Linked DNA regions of Homo sapiens. The protein of the gene in region 1 purifies or fractionates together with the protein of each later gene. This does not show direct contact. Each region holds a gene or a part of one and is shown in the gene's direction. Other genes may lie near its edges.

What was found. The genes of interacting proteins can lie anywhere in the genome.
Region 2: the proteins of KLHL15 (region 1) and TOR1AIP1 purify together in Homo sapiens (co-immunoprecipitation; 3 studies listed by BioGRID and IntAct, with this or other methods). This does not show direct contact.

The regions. Positions count from the first base shown.
Region 1 is NC_000023.11:23,981,620-23,990,302, reverse strand, and holds the end of KLHL15 (kelch-like protein 15), read left to right. Parts: intron 1-1,272; coding exon 1,273-2,382; 3' UTR 2,383-6,583; downstream 6,584-8,683. UniProt on the Homo sapiens protein: Substrate-specific adapter for CUL3 E3 ubiquitin-protein ligase complex.
Region 2 is NC_000001.11:179,913,281-179,921,658, forward strand, and holds the end of TOR1AIP1 (torsin-1A-interacting protein 1), read left to right. Parts: intron 1-717; coding exon 718-774; intron 775-4,171; coding exon 4,172-4,959; 3' UTR 4,960-6,796; downstream 6,797-8,378. UniProt on the Homo sapiens protein: Required for nuclear membrane integrity. Induces TOR1A and TOR1B ATPase activity and is required for their location on the nuclear membrane. Binds to A- and B-type lamins. Possible role in membrane attachment and assembly of the nuclear lamina.

The DNA.
Region 1 (8,683 bases):
CCTGACTCATTTACCTATTGGTAAATTTGTATTTGTTTCCACTTTCCCAAATACATTCTAGGTTCTTTAAGGAAACGGATCACATCTTACGCTTATTTTTGTTTCTCCCTATAGCACTTAGGACAATACTTAAAAGTGCTTTATTTTTATTTTATTTTATTAATTTTGTAGAGATGAGGTCTTGCTTTGTTTGCCCAGGCTGGTCTCAAGTGATCCTCCCACCTTGGCCTCCCTAAGTGCTTGGACAACAGGCATGAGCCACTGCACCTGGCCAAAAATGCTTTATATAAATCTTGGTAGTCATCATAATTAGGTAGCTCCAGCTCCAGAAGCAAAAAGGAAAATGTTTGCCAGGCGCAGTGACTCACACCTGTCATCCCAGCAGCTCAGGAGGCTGAGGCAGGAGGATCGCTTGAGGCCAGGAGTTCAAGACCAGCCTGGGCAACAGAGCAAGACCCCATCTCTAAAAATATATAGTAATAATAATTTTAAAATAAAATTTTAAAAATTAAAGGAAAAAGTTTGACCTGATATCTACTGAATTCTTACAGGAGTTATCAGACCAAGTCTTTATGTCAAAACCCCGAAATTTTACATGTATTTAAATTTTCACTAACTTAACTCCCCAAATGATTCAGTCACAGCTTTATGATGTTACTTGTGGTTAAGAAAACTGTGGATATGGTTTCCTCTACTGTGAAGCCCTGTACTTGTCCTCATACCCGCTACTTGTAGCCCAGGGCTTCACATAATAGGTGCCTAATTATTTGTTTACTCTTAAAAGCTTGGGAATGTACATAGATCATTATAAATTAAGAAAACATAGGAGGCCCAGTGCAGTGGCTCACGCCTGTAATCCCAGCACTTTGGGAGGCTGAGGCGGGTGGATCACAAGGTCAGGAGTTCAAGACCAGCCTGGTCAAGATGATGAAACCTCATCTCTACTAAAAATAAAAAAATTAGCTGGGCGCGTGGTGGCAGGCGCCTCAGGAGGCTGAGGCAGAGAAGTGCTTGAACCTGGGAGGCGGAGCTTGCGGTGAGCTGAGTCCATGCAACTGCACTCCAGCCTGGGCAACAGAGTGAGACTCCATCTCCAAAAAAAAAAAAAAGATTTTTTAAAAGCTTTGTAGAAAACAAAAGAAAGTAGGTGATCTTAGCAGGAAAAGCAGTTTTAGTAAAGTGAGCCTAAGATGATCGTATTAGTCAGCTTTGATAATTTGTTTGCAGCTGATGCTTTTTCCTTTGGTTAAATTCTTTTTCTTGTGTTCTTAGGTTAAGACATCAGAATTTTATAGATACTCCCGACAGCTCCGTTACGAAGTTGACCAAGCATTGAATTACTTTCAGAATGTTCACCAGCAGCCTTTGTTGGATATGAAGTCAAGCCGCATCCGTTCTGCAAAACCGCAAACTACAGTATTTCGAGGAATGATTGGACATAGCATGGTTAACAGTAAAATACTTCTCTTAAAGAAACCAAGAGTCTGGTGGGAGCTAGAAGGCCCACAAGTACCTCTGCGACCTGACTGCCTTGCTATCGTCAATAATTTTGTGTTCCTGTTAGGCGGGGAAGAGCTGGGCCCGGATGGTGAATTCCATGCTTCTTCCAAAGTATTCAGGTATGACCCGAGACAGAACTCCTGGCTGCAGATGGCAGATATGTCTGTACCACGCTCTGAATTTGCTGTAGGTGTTATTGGGAAGTTTATTTACGCCGTAGCAGGCAGAACCAGAGATGAGACTTTCTATTCAACTGAGAGATATGACATCACCAACGATAAATGGGAATTTGTGGATCCTTATCCAGTTAACAAATATGGACATGAGGGGACAGTGCTCAATAACAAATTGTTTATCACCGGTGGAATCACCTCATCTTCCACCTCCAAGCAAGTGTGCGTGTTTGACCCCAGCAAAGAAGGGACCATAGAACAACGGACCAGGAGAACTCAAGTGGTTACCAACTGTTGGGAGAATAAGAGCAAGATGAATTACGCGAGATGCTTTCACAAGATGATTTCTTACAATGGCAAGCTTTATGTCTTCGGTGGTGTCTGTGTGATCTTGAGGGCCTCTTTCGAATCTCAGGGATGCCCTTCTACAGAAGTATACAACCCAGAGACTGATCAGTGGACCATCTTGGCATCCATGCCGATTGGTAGAAGTGGCCATGGTGTGACTGTGCTGGACAAACAAATAATGGTTCTTGGAGGCCTTTGTTATAATGGTCATTACAGCGATTCCATCCTCACTTTTGATCCGGATGAAAACAAGTGGAAGGAAGATGAGTACCCTCGGATGCCCTGCAAGCTGGATGGTTTACAAGTATGCAACCTGCATTTTCCGGACTATGTACTGGATGAGGTCAGGCGTTGCAACTAATGACATCCTCCTCCCTAAAAAAAGAGGCAAACAAAGTATTTGTTTGCACAGAGTAATTAATTAAAACATATAAAGAAAAACCTCACCAGTTTTACTATCAAAGCCATTGGTCTAACATTGTAAGAATTTTTCATTCTGTGCTAGCATCCTTTTTTTCTTTTCAGTGGCCTCAAACTCATGCAATAAGTTAATTCTAAGTGCTAGCTCTTGAAACTACTTCCAGAAGCAGTTGAATAGAATGCTCCACTTATCTGGGATATTGATTTTCTGCTTTAAACATTTCTTTCAGATGTTAGCGTAGGAGTCATGTGTCTTCTAAGAGAAGACCCGATAAGTGTCACTGGATGTGATTTCAGTCTCTGTCTCTATCTGAAACCTTTTTGAAGATTTATTTCAGTGTATTTCAGTCTGTTATACTTTTTAGTTTTATTATTTAAAAGTTTAAAACTCTTGACCTTTTTGCATGGCTTTTTGCTGAAAATGCAAAAATATAAATTTTCTACAAAATTAACTTTTTATATTCAAAACACTATTTCTAAGCTGCCTTCTCTTATCCGCATTGTGTTAGTGAAAGCATATTCATACTCGCATACAACCTATAAATACACAAGGCACATCCCTTTTATGCGTGGTTAGGATTCTATATTTTTAAGCTAGTGCACTTACTTGCACACACAGTTCGCCATACTTGTTGAATTTTAGATGTAACGTCTTTTCACATATTAACATTTTTAGAAAGTTGAAATAACTGGAGTCCTCATTTGCTATCAAAGTAGCCTATCTTCAGTCCATACTGATTCAGTAATATTTGAACTCCTTATATTTCTGAAACATGTATGGTTATGAAAACTAACACTTTATATTTTATTTTCAAAAGTAAATGTTAGTGTTCTTTGTCGATGTATGTCTTTTCTTTTTGAAAATGTTTTTCTTTGCAGTCTGTTTAACGTTACCCTGTTTTTAGTGAGAATCGGAGTGGTATATGACAAGTTCTGGCCCTGCAGCATGCAAGCACTTTTAAAGAGCATTTAGGTAATACCAGACTCCTAAATCAAGGCCCCTTAAAAGTAAGTGCAACTCCCATTTTTTACATTCAGTAAGGCTGCTGCATTTGTTATTGAATGGAAGGTAGAAACTCTTAGAAAATTTGACCTCAGTTTTGACTTAGAGGTAAGAAATAGAATTATAATGTTACTGGTTTTATCTACTTGTTTATTTTGTACAAAATACCCAGCGACACTAGGGATGTAAGCCCTCAGTTTTTGTTTTATTTACTGAAAGCTATTAGCATGAAGGATAGTAACCACAAAGTTCAGAATGGATCAAGAATAGCTGTTTAAAAGCATTTATAATAAGTGTTTTAGGATTAGCTGCACCTTTCAACTCTTTAAATGCAGAGGAAAAAACATAGTTGACAAAGTTAAGCAAGAATAACCTGGGAGTGGATCATTGAAATTGATGCCATTTGCGCATGAGTAGTCTATATCTGATACAGACTAGATCTATACTGGCAAAACTTGCCAGATCTTAGAATATTGGTGCAATATTGCAATGCCTTCTATATGGCTGCTGATGTATAAATTTTCTAGTTTCACTTTGTTTGGTGTTTTTTGTTTTTTTGTTTGTTTGTTTGTTTTTTTGCTGCTGCCACCATTGAACATAAAATGGAAGTGTGAAGTCATGGAAATGTGAAGACTTTGGTTTTTGGGGGTTTTTTGGGCAGTTATTAGACATACTATGAGATTAAACCTGATCTTCAAACTCCAGAATTGGAGGCATTTGGGTTTAAGAAACCAGGTACATAAGTAGCTTTTGAAAAAACCATTGGCATTGATTTCAAAAATCAATAATAATCTTATTTTATATATGAGACTTATATTTTCATTAACTAGTCCTGTCATTTACTTACAGTTTCCAAACATGAAATTTGGTATCTTGTTTCCCATGGTAATATGGGTAAAAGTCTTTTTCTACATTTAAAAAATACATTATTTTATTTTTGAAAGTTAGGAATAAGTTAGCCATTTAATTTTTTTCTACATTAGTTTAGTGGCTTTGTATGTGTGCTATTTTGCTTTAAAGAAAATAACGTCTTCATTATTTTCCTCATTGATGTCTTTTGCTAGAAAAGACCAAGAAAGAGCCATCAGGCCAGGTATCCACATCAAAGCCTTTACACTATAGTGGTGGTTCTCTTTAATTGCTTAGATATGACTTCATGACCCTAGTCAGGGTGACATCTGGGCAAACATTTGAGTATTCTTGGTCTTCCATTTTAAAGACAGAGGCCAAGATCAAAGTTCATGTTTTGTAAAATTCGTAAAATCTTAACTTGAACTAACTCTGGGTTCAGCTTTACGTAAGTCACGTCGGACCTGATGTTAGCTGTAATCAGTTTTGAGCTTTAAGGATAGTTGCTGTTGCTTGGGTTCTGAATGTATGAGAAAACTCCCTGTTTATATGTAGTTCTAATTTAGGTTATTTTAAATCCATGATTAACTTACATTCCCTTTTAAAATTATGGTTTTATTGCTGCAAGAGATTTATTTTTGTTATACTAAACTATGGAAAAGTTTTTCATAGCATTTTTTTCAAGTTTATTTTTTGTGTGCTTCATTTGGAGTTTTTGTTTATATACATTGCGCTCAAAAAAGTAGTTTTTTGAAAAATTCAGTAAGATTTGAATCTATACAGTTTAACTGTTATGACCTTTATGCGTGTTGTTTTCACTTTATATCTCAAATGCCAGAGTTCACAAAAATAGCTGATCTTCATTAATTACATCTTAATTAGAACCATTTGTTCTCTTCCGTGTCTTTGACCTTCTAAGTTTTGATTTTAAAGAAATTCCTTGCACTACAGCCTTTTCTTAAAATGCAAGATTCTCACTTTGAAGGTTTTGTGTTGGAAGAAATGCTACTGGTTTTTAAAAAGCAAAGCTTAACTAATAGAATTATTAGCTTTTCTTGAGACAGCTTTCTGTGTCCTCATTACTCTGCTCTGTGTGAGTGTTACTAGAATTTGTGAAATACTGACTGAGCCCTTCACTTATCTTTTCTAAAGCAGCACCTTTGGACACCTCATTCTGGGAAGCCTGCTCGAGTCATAGTAAAGGACACACGCTTTATGTGGGGAGAAGTGGTAAAAATGGAGTTTTGTCTTAATTACATGAAACTAAGCTTTAAAATATTTTATAACAGATTATTTGAGCTGCATAATCTAAACATGTCAAACGTTCAGTGGGACTATTTTTATATATGTATATGTGGGTGTAGGTCATAACATTTCAGTTTATAATATAAATTGTTATTTCAGTTTATAAGCTATCTCTCAGAGGAGACTAGCTCTTTTGAGAATTCATAATTTAAAGTTTTAGACTGAAGTAAAATGCAACATAGATAATAGTGTAAATCAGATATAATTGAGGGCTATATGGCAGTAAAACTGCTAGTGCCAGTTTTCTTGTTTGCCTGTTATACATTTTTGATTTTTGTTTTTGTATTCTGAACATTTTGAGAGATCATATGTTTGTTCAATTACATTTAGAGTTGGTTTGGGAATAAATATCTTCTAAAAAGAGATTTATCTTAAAAATGGAAGTCCTAAAAATTAGTTTATCCAGAGTTTATAAAGTCAAATATTCAGTAGGCATAGACTGGAATAGATAAATTCATGGAAATCATATCCTTTCAGTACACCGTATAACTTCAATATTACACAAGTAACATTGAGGAGAATGCCATCAGCTTTGTTCTCCCTTAAATTCTTTGGTTTTCTTTTTACATTTTGGGAACAACTGCATTTAAAATGTTATTAGTCAGTATATAGTAAGGATTAGGTGTTTGCTTTCTGAAGGAATGGTCCAGTGAGGTGATTGGGAGAGGTTATTTTCTACCTAACTTGTATATGCCCTATACCTCTTGGGCATACTTTGTCTATAGAAAAATATTTTGACCTTTAGGTACATTTTGGGCCAGTAGTCAAATAATCCTAGGGCCGATATAAAAATCTTAGAATAATTTAAGGTTTGCCTTTTATACCTGTTTTGAAAGCCTTTACATTTTTGTCAGGTAATTTTTCCCAAGCCGTGGATATAATCTATTCAAACATGTTTATGCTATCCATTCTGTTTTTAAATTGAAAAAAATGTTAAAAGTGTTTATGAAGAAAAGTTTAAATAAAATATTTTTAATCTTTAAAATATACTTCTTTATCTCTGATTATTTGCTGTTTTTTGATATAATCCATCACTTTCAAAGTCACTAATGACTTGATTAGCAGAATACATTTTGTTTTCCTTCAACATGCCAAGGAAGTGCCATGAAAATGTGATTTCTGCCAGTGCTTTCAGCCGCAGATTCAAATGAGAGCATTAGAGTGAAATTATTTATACTCTTATATGCAATGGAAATTTTATAATGAAGCCAAGTAATTAAAGTTCTACTAACACAGAGTTTTGCAGTCTTGCAAAATGAAAATATAGAACTGAGAAAAAGCATTTACAAGCCTCAAGCCTTAGTTTGGTGATGTTTAGATTTCCTTAAGCATTTTTGATTCATTGGTCTTCCAGGCATTTCTGAAATTCAGAACTAGGTGGAGGCCTTGGGTACATCAGCACATGTGTGCCATCTTTCAAATGACACCTAAGAAACCTCAACAGCATTCCCAAGCACCTAGATCCTGGCCTCAGGCAACCTTTCCAGCCTCTTTCTCCCCACCACTTCCTACACTCCATTCTGTTGTGATCTTTACATGTGTTCCTTTCCAGCCTAAAATTACTTGCCTTTCTTTCCCCTGCCCTGCTTGTTAAAATCCACTTATTTTTGCAAAGTCCAACTCAAATGTTTCCCTCCCCTCCTGAAAGCTGCATTAGCTCTTCCGTTGAATTAATTGCCTCTTCTACACTCAACACACTTATAGTTTCTATTTAACTTCATTTTGCATAATAATTGGGCATGATTCTTTCTCCACAACTAGATCATAGTCTCCTTGGGTGAAAAGATCTTTCATTCTTTGTACCCTCATATCTAGCATTTGTACACAGTACGCACTGAGCTAAATGTTTATTGCAGCATATGACAAATTCAATATGTAACAGACAAATGGTATAGGTATTCAGATGAGAGAGAGATTACAATGCCCTGGGGTTTTGTCTCTGCTTGCATCTCAGTCTACATACTCTGTACTATCTCATCCATACCTATACCTATGGCTTCATCTACAACTGTTACTCTTTTTTTTTTTTTTTTTTTTTTTTTTTGAGACAAGAGTCTCACTCTGTCCCTCAGGCTGGAGTGCAGTGGTGCAATCTCAGCTCACTGAAACCTCTGCCTCCCAGGTTCAAGCAATTCTCTTGCCTCAGCCTCCCGAGTAGCTGGGATGACACTCCCAGCTAGTTTTTGTGTTTTTAGTAGAGACAGGGTTTCACCATGTTGGCCAGGCTGGTCTCAAACTCCTGACCTCAAGTGATCCACCCGCCTCCGCAGCCTTTTACTGATCTCCCTTCACCCTGAGACTAAGATCCAAATTCCCTAGCGTGCGTGCCACACAAGGCCCTTCATGCGTTGCTCTCTTTGTACCTGTTCAGTCTGTTTTACGTTCTATCCTCTAGCTATGCAAGCTAATTGGAGTTCCTGAATAGACTGTGTTTTCTTAAGCCTGTCTGCCTTTGCACACATGCTTCCCCTCTTCCATTCCTGCCTAACCCTTTCTTGGCCTTCAAGAACCAGCCTGGGCATCATGCCCTCTGTCAGTTTTTGGTTTTTTTTTAACCCCTTGGGACATGTTAACATTGTCCCCTTGGTCTTACCATAACACTTGTGGATACCTAGACCCCATCTCCCTTAACACGTGATTAGAACTGTCTTCTCCATCCCACCCTTAATCGTACTCCTTGAGGGCAAATACTGTGTTTTTATTTTCCAAGAGTCTGACTTAATGTCTGGTACATGGTAAGTCCTCCTTAAAAGAGAACTCAGAAACTTGGAATGTTGCCAATGAAATGCTCTGGGTGAGGGGGTACCTGTATGAGAGAGCTTGATTGTCTGCCAAAGTTGACCTCCCAGAGGAATTTCCCTCCATTTCCACAACCACCACTCCTGTGTCTAGAAGGGTAATGCATACAGCTCTCACAACTGTCAACAAATACTTCTTCCTTGAACATCTCACTATTTGTGATCCAGATTGAAAATATCAAGACAGACCAAAGGGTGTTTTTGCAGAACATTAATCCCATGAAATGCTCTGTTGGGGGAGGTGTTCAGTGGTCACAGTAATCTTGGGAAACACTACACTTCTCTTC
Region 2 (8,378 bases), on another chromosome or scaffold:
AGATTTAGATGAAAGTAGAAATTTGACAGAGTTGAGAGAAAATTATTTTTGAGCTCTATTGTTTAACCACAAGCCTAAAACAGAATTACTTTATTACTTGTCTATTAACAGAAATGATGAGAAGTTTTTAAATGTGATTTTAAAATACTACTAGTATTTGAAATGGTCAGAATCCCCAGAGGAAATACTGAATCAGTTTGAGGTAGAAAATAGTGAGGATTAAGATTTTTATATTAAAACACCTTATCCAGACAGCTCAGTAGTCTGTAATCCACATTTTGTCCTTATTTTCCCCCTCTTTACAGCATCTTCACCAGGCAAGAGTTCAATATATGGCAGTTTTTCAGATGGTATAATATGTTTCATTTTATTATGGTGTGCTTAGTTTCTTTGTCCTTTTTATCCCGGAAGTTTCACCAATCCCATTAGATACTTAATGGGTCAAATACTTCCAAACTTTCTCTCAAAACTAATTATTGTGTGCTTTGTACTAGACCCCACCATATGCTGTGAAAAGCTATGAAAGAAATAGGTCATGTGTTTCAAGGAGCTCTCAGTCTAATCGGCACTCAGATATTCTACTTTTTCTTCTGCTTCTGGCTGATCTCTGTCTTCTTTTTTTCCTGGTGGAATTTGTATCTTCTTTGTCTACTAGAAATAAATACTCAAATTATGAAGCATAAGTTGATAGTCTTATTTTATTACTCTCACCATTAGATGACAGCATTCTGAAATCAGAGCTTGGAAACCAGTCACCATCAACCTCCAGCCGACGTAAGTTTATGTATTCAGTTTTTATTAAATATTTCTGTAAAATTGGTATTCCATAATTGTTTAAAAATGTTTTTTGACAGCAGTATGACTCGATGCTATTTGAAGAATCACATTTTAAGCACTTGAGAGGAAAAAGTATATATTCTACTAGCAGTGAAATTCTTTATAGACAAACTTTATGAGACAACATCTGGTATTGCTCTTCACTTAACTGTCTATAAGACCAAAAATAATAGCTAAAATAAGTAAAGCTACTAATACTGTTAACTGAGAAAACCATGCTGAATTGAAAGAAAGTTAGCCAGAGCATGACTTTATGGGATTACAATGGCTTTCGGAGTCTGCAAACCTGTATTTGAACTAGATTGGACCACTTACCTCCTTTACAGCCTTGTGGCAAGTTTCTTTAGTTCTCCAAGTCTTATTGTCCTGAAAGAGTACTAAGAAAATAACTTAATGGGCTGAGCGTGGTGGCTCATGCCTGTAATCTCAGCACTTTGGGAGGCCAAGGCAGGCGGATCATGAGATCAAGAGATCGAAACCATCCTGGCCAACATGGTGAAACCCCATCTCTACTAAAAATACAAAAATTAGCTGGGCGTGGTGGCACACGCCTGTTGTCCCACCTACTCAGGAGGCTGAGGCAGGAGAATCACTTGAACCCAGGAAGCGGAGGTTGCAGTGAGCCGAGATTGTGCCACTGCACTCCAGCCTGGCAACAGAGCGAGACTCTGTCTCAAAAAAAAAAAAAAAAGAAAATAGATTAATGATGATTCTGAAATTTTTTGTTCTTGGTACCGCTTTACACTAGTAAAGTTATTAAGAACCTCAAAGAGCTTTTTGTTGAAAATATGGGTTATGTCTATCCATATGTACCAGGAAATTAAAGTTGAAACATTTTTTAAAATATGTATTAATTTATTTTAAAATAATTTAGCAAGAAGAGTAACAGATCAGATTGCTTTGCATTTTTTCTAATCTCTTTAATGCCTAGCTTTAAAAAATGGATTTGGATTATCATATATGCTTCTGTATGCAGTCTGTTACAATATATTATTTTTGTTGAAGTATCTACAAAAAATCCAGCTTTTATACAGATATGAAAAATTTTAATAGCCTCTTCAGATAATTGTGGCTATTCTTTTTTGAACTCTCCAAAACTCAACAAGTGGTAGTTTCTTAAATGTTACTTGAAATAGGATATCTAAAACCATCTTACTGAGCTTTTAGTACTCTATTACATTAAAAGTCATTGGTCTTTCTTATACTTTGAATGGAGTATCATGCACTGGTCATTTGGAAAACATTGGTTCACTGAGGAATGCAGATTTTCCAAACATTGACACATTAGGAATGTAATAAAAAATATCACATTTGTTAACATCACTGCCAATCTCAAGACTTTAAAAAAGTGTTAAAGGGTGGGGTTCGTGGCCCATGCCTGTAATCCCAACATTTTGGGAGGCCCAGGCGGATGGATCACCTGAGGTCAGGAGTTCAAGACCAGCCTGGCCAACATGGCAAAACCCTGTCTCTACTAGAAATACAAAAACATTAGCTGGGAATGGTGGCACGCACCTGTAATCCCAGCTACTTAGGAGGCTGAGGCAGGAGAATCACTTGAACCTGGGAGGCAGAGGTTGCAGTGAGCCAAGATCGCACCACTTCATGTCATCCTGGGCCACAGAGCGAGACTCCATCTCAGAAAAAAAAAAGAAAGTGTTAAAGTACAATATTGGGAGTTGTCAAGCTCATGGTGGCAGATTTAGGATTCTAAAATCCTAATTTTCACTTGAAAGCAAATATCTGCCAAATACACAAGTCTGACTGTAGTTTGTTACTTGTTCTTTCAAGTAAAAAATAGTATTCCATGAAAAATGTGCTAATTCGCCTTGTAATTCATTTGCACAAAATTCTTTTCCTTGAGACAACCATGGTACTGTATGATGCAGCAGAAGTGCTTTGTGCATACCTTCCATTTGTTCAGAAAGAATATTGACATATGTACTCAAGGATTCAGATTTAATAAGATAAATAATTAACTGCTTCATAAAGGACATTCTTAAGTAAAAGAATGTCCCTTTGTTAAATCTTGAATGCATGGCAGTGAAAAATAACAATGACTACACTCGTACAGTTTGGTGCCACTGCCCTGTAACTCATGCTAAGGCATCAGAAGTTTTTCTCACCATAGCTTTTGCGTCATCAGTGCAAATGTCAACACAAGGTGAAAGTCAAATAACATCTTAGTGTTAGAAGAATAGCTTTAACTTCATGGACCCCCCTCCCCACAAAATAGGGTCTTGAGGTACCCCACAGACCACGCCTTGAGAATTGCTGCTCTAAAAGGTCCCTACTAAAATTAATAGCCTGAAACAGTCAATAAGTAAAAGATGTAAAAGTATTATTGTTACTATCAACTGAATAAATGAAGTAGAATATGAGAAAGTACTTTATAAACCGAAAAGCACTAGATAAATATAAATTAATCCTATTATTATTGCCAATAGTAACTAGGGATGAGTCACAAACTAAATTTTACCAGTGTTAACTTGCATACCACAAAAGGCATCAGTGAAATTAATCTAAAGGGACAGCTAGCTATTATAACACGTAGAAGATGTTCATTTATATTGCATCCTTTTCTTTTTTTTTTTTTTTTTTTTTGAGATGGAATCTCTCTCTGTCACCCAGGCTGGAGTGCAGTGGCGTGATCTCGGCTCACTGCAACCTCCGCCTCCCGTGTTCAAGTGATTCTCCTGCCTCAGCCTCCCAAGTAGCTGGACTACAGGTGTGTGCCACCACACCCAGCTAGTTTTTTGTATTTTCAGTAGAGACGGGGTTTCACAGTCTCGATCTCCTGACCTCGTGATCCTCCCTCCTCGGCCTCCCAAAGTGCTGGGACTACAGGCATGAGCCACCACTTCCAGCCTGCATCCTTTTCTTTATCCCTTTATGTACTTCAGAAATATTTCACCTTGAATAATTAGCCATGTGAATGCTGAGTTACTAAATTAAAAAAATATTTTATAAATTGTATTTTAATAGTCTATTCTCCCAACTATTAGCAGTGAAAATAATAACTTCGCTTTATAAACTATTATTTTTCTGACTTGTTTATGCCATTTCATATGTTTAAAAACTTTTTTCCTCAAAGACTTATTTTTATATTGAAGAGACATATGCATATTTGTACACATAATTCAAAGCCTATGCATGTAAGATTTTCTTGAGAATGTGATAAATTATTTTATTAAGAAAATTATCAGCTTTCTTCTTTAAAGTCCTTCCTCTTTTACCTAATGTTTATAAAGACTGATATTGATTTTAAAAGTCACTTGCCCCTGAATCTAAGAAAGTGGTATTTATATCTGTCATTTCTTTTTTGTCTGAGTAGAAGTGACTGGACAACCCCAAAATGCATCTTTTGTCAAGAGGAACCGGTGGTGGCTACTTCCTCTGATAGCTGCTCTTGCCTCTGGGAGTTTTTGGTTCTTTAGTACTCCTGAGGTAGAAACCACTGCTGTTCAAGAGTTCCAGAACCAGATGAATCAACTTAAGAATAAGTACCAAGGTCAAGATGAGAAGCTGTGGAAAAGGAGCCAAACATTCCTGGAAAAACATCTTAATAGCTCCCATCCTCGGTCTCAGCCTGCTATCTTACTGCTCACTGCTGCCCGAGATGCTGAAGAAGCACTTAGGTGTCTGAGTGAACAAATTGCTGATGCCTATTCTTCTTTTCGTAGTGTCCGTGCCATCCGGATTGATGGGACAGATAAAGCTACTCAAGACAGTGATACTGTCAAACTAGAGGTAGACCAAGAACTGAGCAATGGATTTAAGAATGGCCAGAATGCAGCTGTGGTACACCGCTTTGAGTCATTTCCCGCAGGCTCTACTTTGATCTTCTACAAATATTGTGACCATGAAAACGCGGCCTTCAAAGATGTAGCCTTAGTCCTGACTGTCTTATTGGAGGAAGAGACACTTGGAACAAGTCTAGGCCTAAAGGAAGTTGAAGAAAAAGTAAGAGATTTTCTTAAAGTCAAGTTCACCAATTCTAACACACCCAACTCCTACAATCATATGGACCCAGACAAACTGAATGGCCTCTGGAGCCGTATTTCTCACTTAGTTCTGCCTGTGCAACCTGAAAATGCCCTGAAAAGGGGCATCTGCTTATAAGAAGTGAGAGAGAAGAAAAATCATGTCCCAAGTTCTGAGAATTGTTCACACTTTCTAACCAGAGACAGAATTCAGAGCTCTTTTTGAAAGAACTAGTTTCTTTTTAAAGAAGTTAAGTGCTTACATAAACATGGAACATATAAATCATTCATTCAACCTAATTATCTGTGATATGAGAGAATCATTTCAGTTTCCATTGAGAGCTCTGTTAAAGGTATCTTAGGAGTGCAGATTATATGCAGTTCCTTAGAGAATCTGTTTTGATTCTGGGCTGAGTTATTACAGTTATGGTATGACCAGTGAGAGGGATTTGTGTCCTTTCTTATGAACCTTCCTGATTTTTTAACTTAGATTTCTCACTAAGTTTCCTGAGTTATTAGTAAGATTGCTCCCTAAATGTAACCAGGGATTTTCCCATTATGTTCCCTTTTATACCATTTAGGTGTGAGTTCCTTAGCTTCTGCCTATAGGAACATAAGTAATGAAAGGTCATCTAGGTGTGTGTTTGGAATTTTTTTCTTTTGTTTTTTGGAAAATGGAAAGAACAAGGCAAGGAAGGAAAATTAATGGGGAAGCTGAAGGGAGGAAATGTTACAGTAATCCACTGAGATGTAGTTTAGTCAAACATAGGTATATGAACTGTTAATCTTGGTGGATTCCGTTGGGATTTGTTTTTTACATCTCCTTTTTCCTTCCTTGAAGAAAAATTCTTGGCTGTCCCAAGGATTCTTCATGTATATTGCAAAATTTAATATATTTGTTCACTTGAGTCTTAAGAGTAGGTCAGGCCAAGGCAGGTGGATCACCTGAGGTCAGAAGTTCAAGACCAGCCTGGCCAACATGGTGAAACCCCGTCTCTACTAAAAATACAAAAATTAGCTGGGCGTGGTGGTGCATGCCTGAAATCCCAGCTACTTGGGAGGCTGAGGCAGGAGAATTGCTTGAACCCGGGAGGCGGAGGTTGCAGTAAGCCGAGACCATGCTTATTGCCCTCCAGTCTGGGCAACAAAAATGAAACTCCGTCTCAAAAAAAAAAAAGTAGGTCAATTCGTAACAGTTTATTTTGGACACACCCTGAAGCTTTTGTTTTGAATTAAGAAATGAGTTTCAGGAATTGACAAACCATTTGTTAACCAGCTGTCCTGGGCTATTGAAGAAGATTTCATTTTCCGCGCATCCACTTGTTGCAGTCCAAGTCCTCTAGTGCAACGCCATAGCAAATATAAAGATTTACTATGCACGTGATACATTTTATGGAGTGCCTCAAGCCAAGATAGTGAATTTATATGAAGGGTGTGAAATGTATTTCTTTACTACTATAGTAGTTTAGTTATAACTTTGCATCTATAATTGAGCTTTCTCATCTGTCAAATGCTATGGTTTTCTTAAAATGTTACAATTCTAGATCTATCCACCTTGTTTTTTTATTGTCTACAAACCATTAAATGTAAATATTGTTTTTAGAGTCAGTCATTGGCTTTGTCATTTACCCTTTGAGAGTTCCACAAGTGGTAGTAGAGTGGTTTAACGTCTTTCCTCTAGTACTACCAGTATTCATAAATGTATACCCCTTACTGTAATTTGTTCCTCTTAGAAGTCAGATCATCTGATTTATAGAGGATTATGAAAACCAGAGTTTTTGAAAAGGCTTATTTTATACATACGTATTATATAGAGAAACAAATGTTTTTATTAAATGTTTCATTGACCCAAGTAATTTAAAAGTAATATGTTACCTATGTCTTTCAGGAAAAATAATTATAGCAGCTGATCTGTAAATGACTTTAAAAGCTATTTTAGTAATTTAAATAAATTTACTTTCTTGGTTTATACTCTCTATGTGTTATAAACTTAATGATTTATCATCTTTAAAAAAAGAAATCCAAGTATTTTCCTTGAACAATTGTAGCAACTCTGGCTAGGAGAAACAAAAATCAAAGAACTGGAGCCATTTGCAAGTACATTGGTTAGAAGTGGAATAGCCGTAACTTTCCATTTTATCTCGGCACTTAGGGTTTTTAAAAATACAGTTAAGTTAGATATTCCTGACTTAGCAAAAGAATCTCCACAGCAGCTTTTCTTTTTTTTTTTTTTAAGTAGACATGGGATCTCGCTATATTGCCCAGGCTGTTTTTGAACTCTTGGCCTCAAGCAGTCCTCCTGCCTAAGCCTCCTAAGTAGCTGGGATTACAGGCATAAGTCACTACACCTGGCTTCTTAACCTTTTCTTTATCACCTCCCTGAAGAACTTTTTTAGATTTTTTTCTTAGTCACCCCTTCCCCATGATATTTCAACACCAGATATATACTATGTATCTGTTTATGGACTGTAAATGTTTTTTGCTTTATACAAAATAGAATTTTTTTTTGTCCCCAATGAACCAATTTTCACCCCCATTGAGAATGCATGCTCAAGAGCATCCACGTTTTAGATAATTGCTGCCTAAAATGTTCTATTTGCTATTCATGTTACTGTGATCCTTTTAGAAGGGAAAATTTATTTTTTATTTTTTTTATTTTTTATTTTTTTTATTTTTGAGACAATCTCACTCTTGCCCAGGCTGGAGTGCAGTGGCGCAATCTCGGCTCACTGCAACCTCCGCCTCCCATGTTCAAGTGATTCTTCTGCCTCAGCCTCCCGAGTAGCTGGGATTACAGGTTCACACCACCATGCCCGGCTAATTTTTTGTATTTTTAGTAGAGACGGAGTTTCACCATGTTGGCCAGGCTGGTCTTGAACTCCTGACCTCAGGTGATCCACCTGCCTTGGCCTCCCAAAGTGCTGGGATTACAGGCATGAGCCGCGGAGCCTGGCCTAGAAAGGAAAATTTAAGTAAGATACCAGCTTCAGAATAGGAGCTAGGGTCTAGAGAAATGGAGCACATTGTAACTGGCTGACAACAGTGGCCCAGGAAAACCACAGTAACTTAATTTGAAACTTAATTTGCTTCCCTTGTTTTAATGACTTTTTAATATTTAAAGATGTTTTCTAAACCTCTAATCCTCAAAACAAAAATTGGAAGTAAACTGATTTTCATTCAGTGAACTGCCATTTAGAAGTGATAGGGGTTTACATACTTTGTACCATTAGTTAACGCCTAAGCTAAAAGTATAATATCCAGTTTCCCTATGATCTCAAGTTTATGGAAAGTAGCCTTTCTTTTGGCAGTGTAAACAAGCAGTTACATTAAATACGTAAAGATAATGCATTATTCTGCTATTTTGTCCTTATCAAGATCATGTAGTAAAATTTTGTGGTATAAGAGGATAGTGTTTTTCCCTAAGGAAGAGGATTTTATTGGCATTAACCACCAAAGATGGGGTTCCTGAGCCTGGAAAACCAAGCTGAGAAGGCTGCCATTGACTGGAAAAGGAGGAAATTCCTCCCTTGAATGCCCTCTTTCTGGCCTGGATTCTGA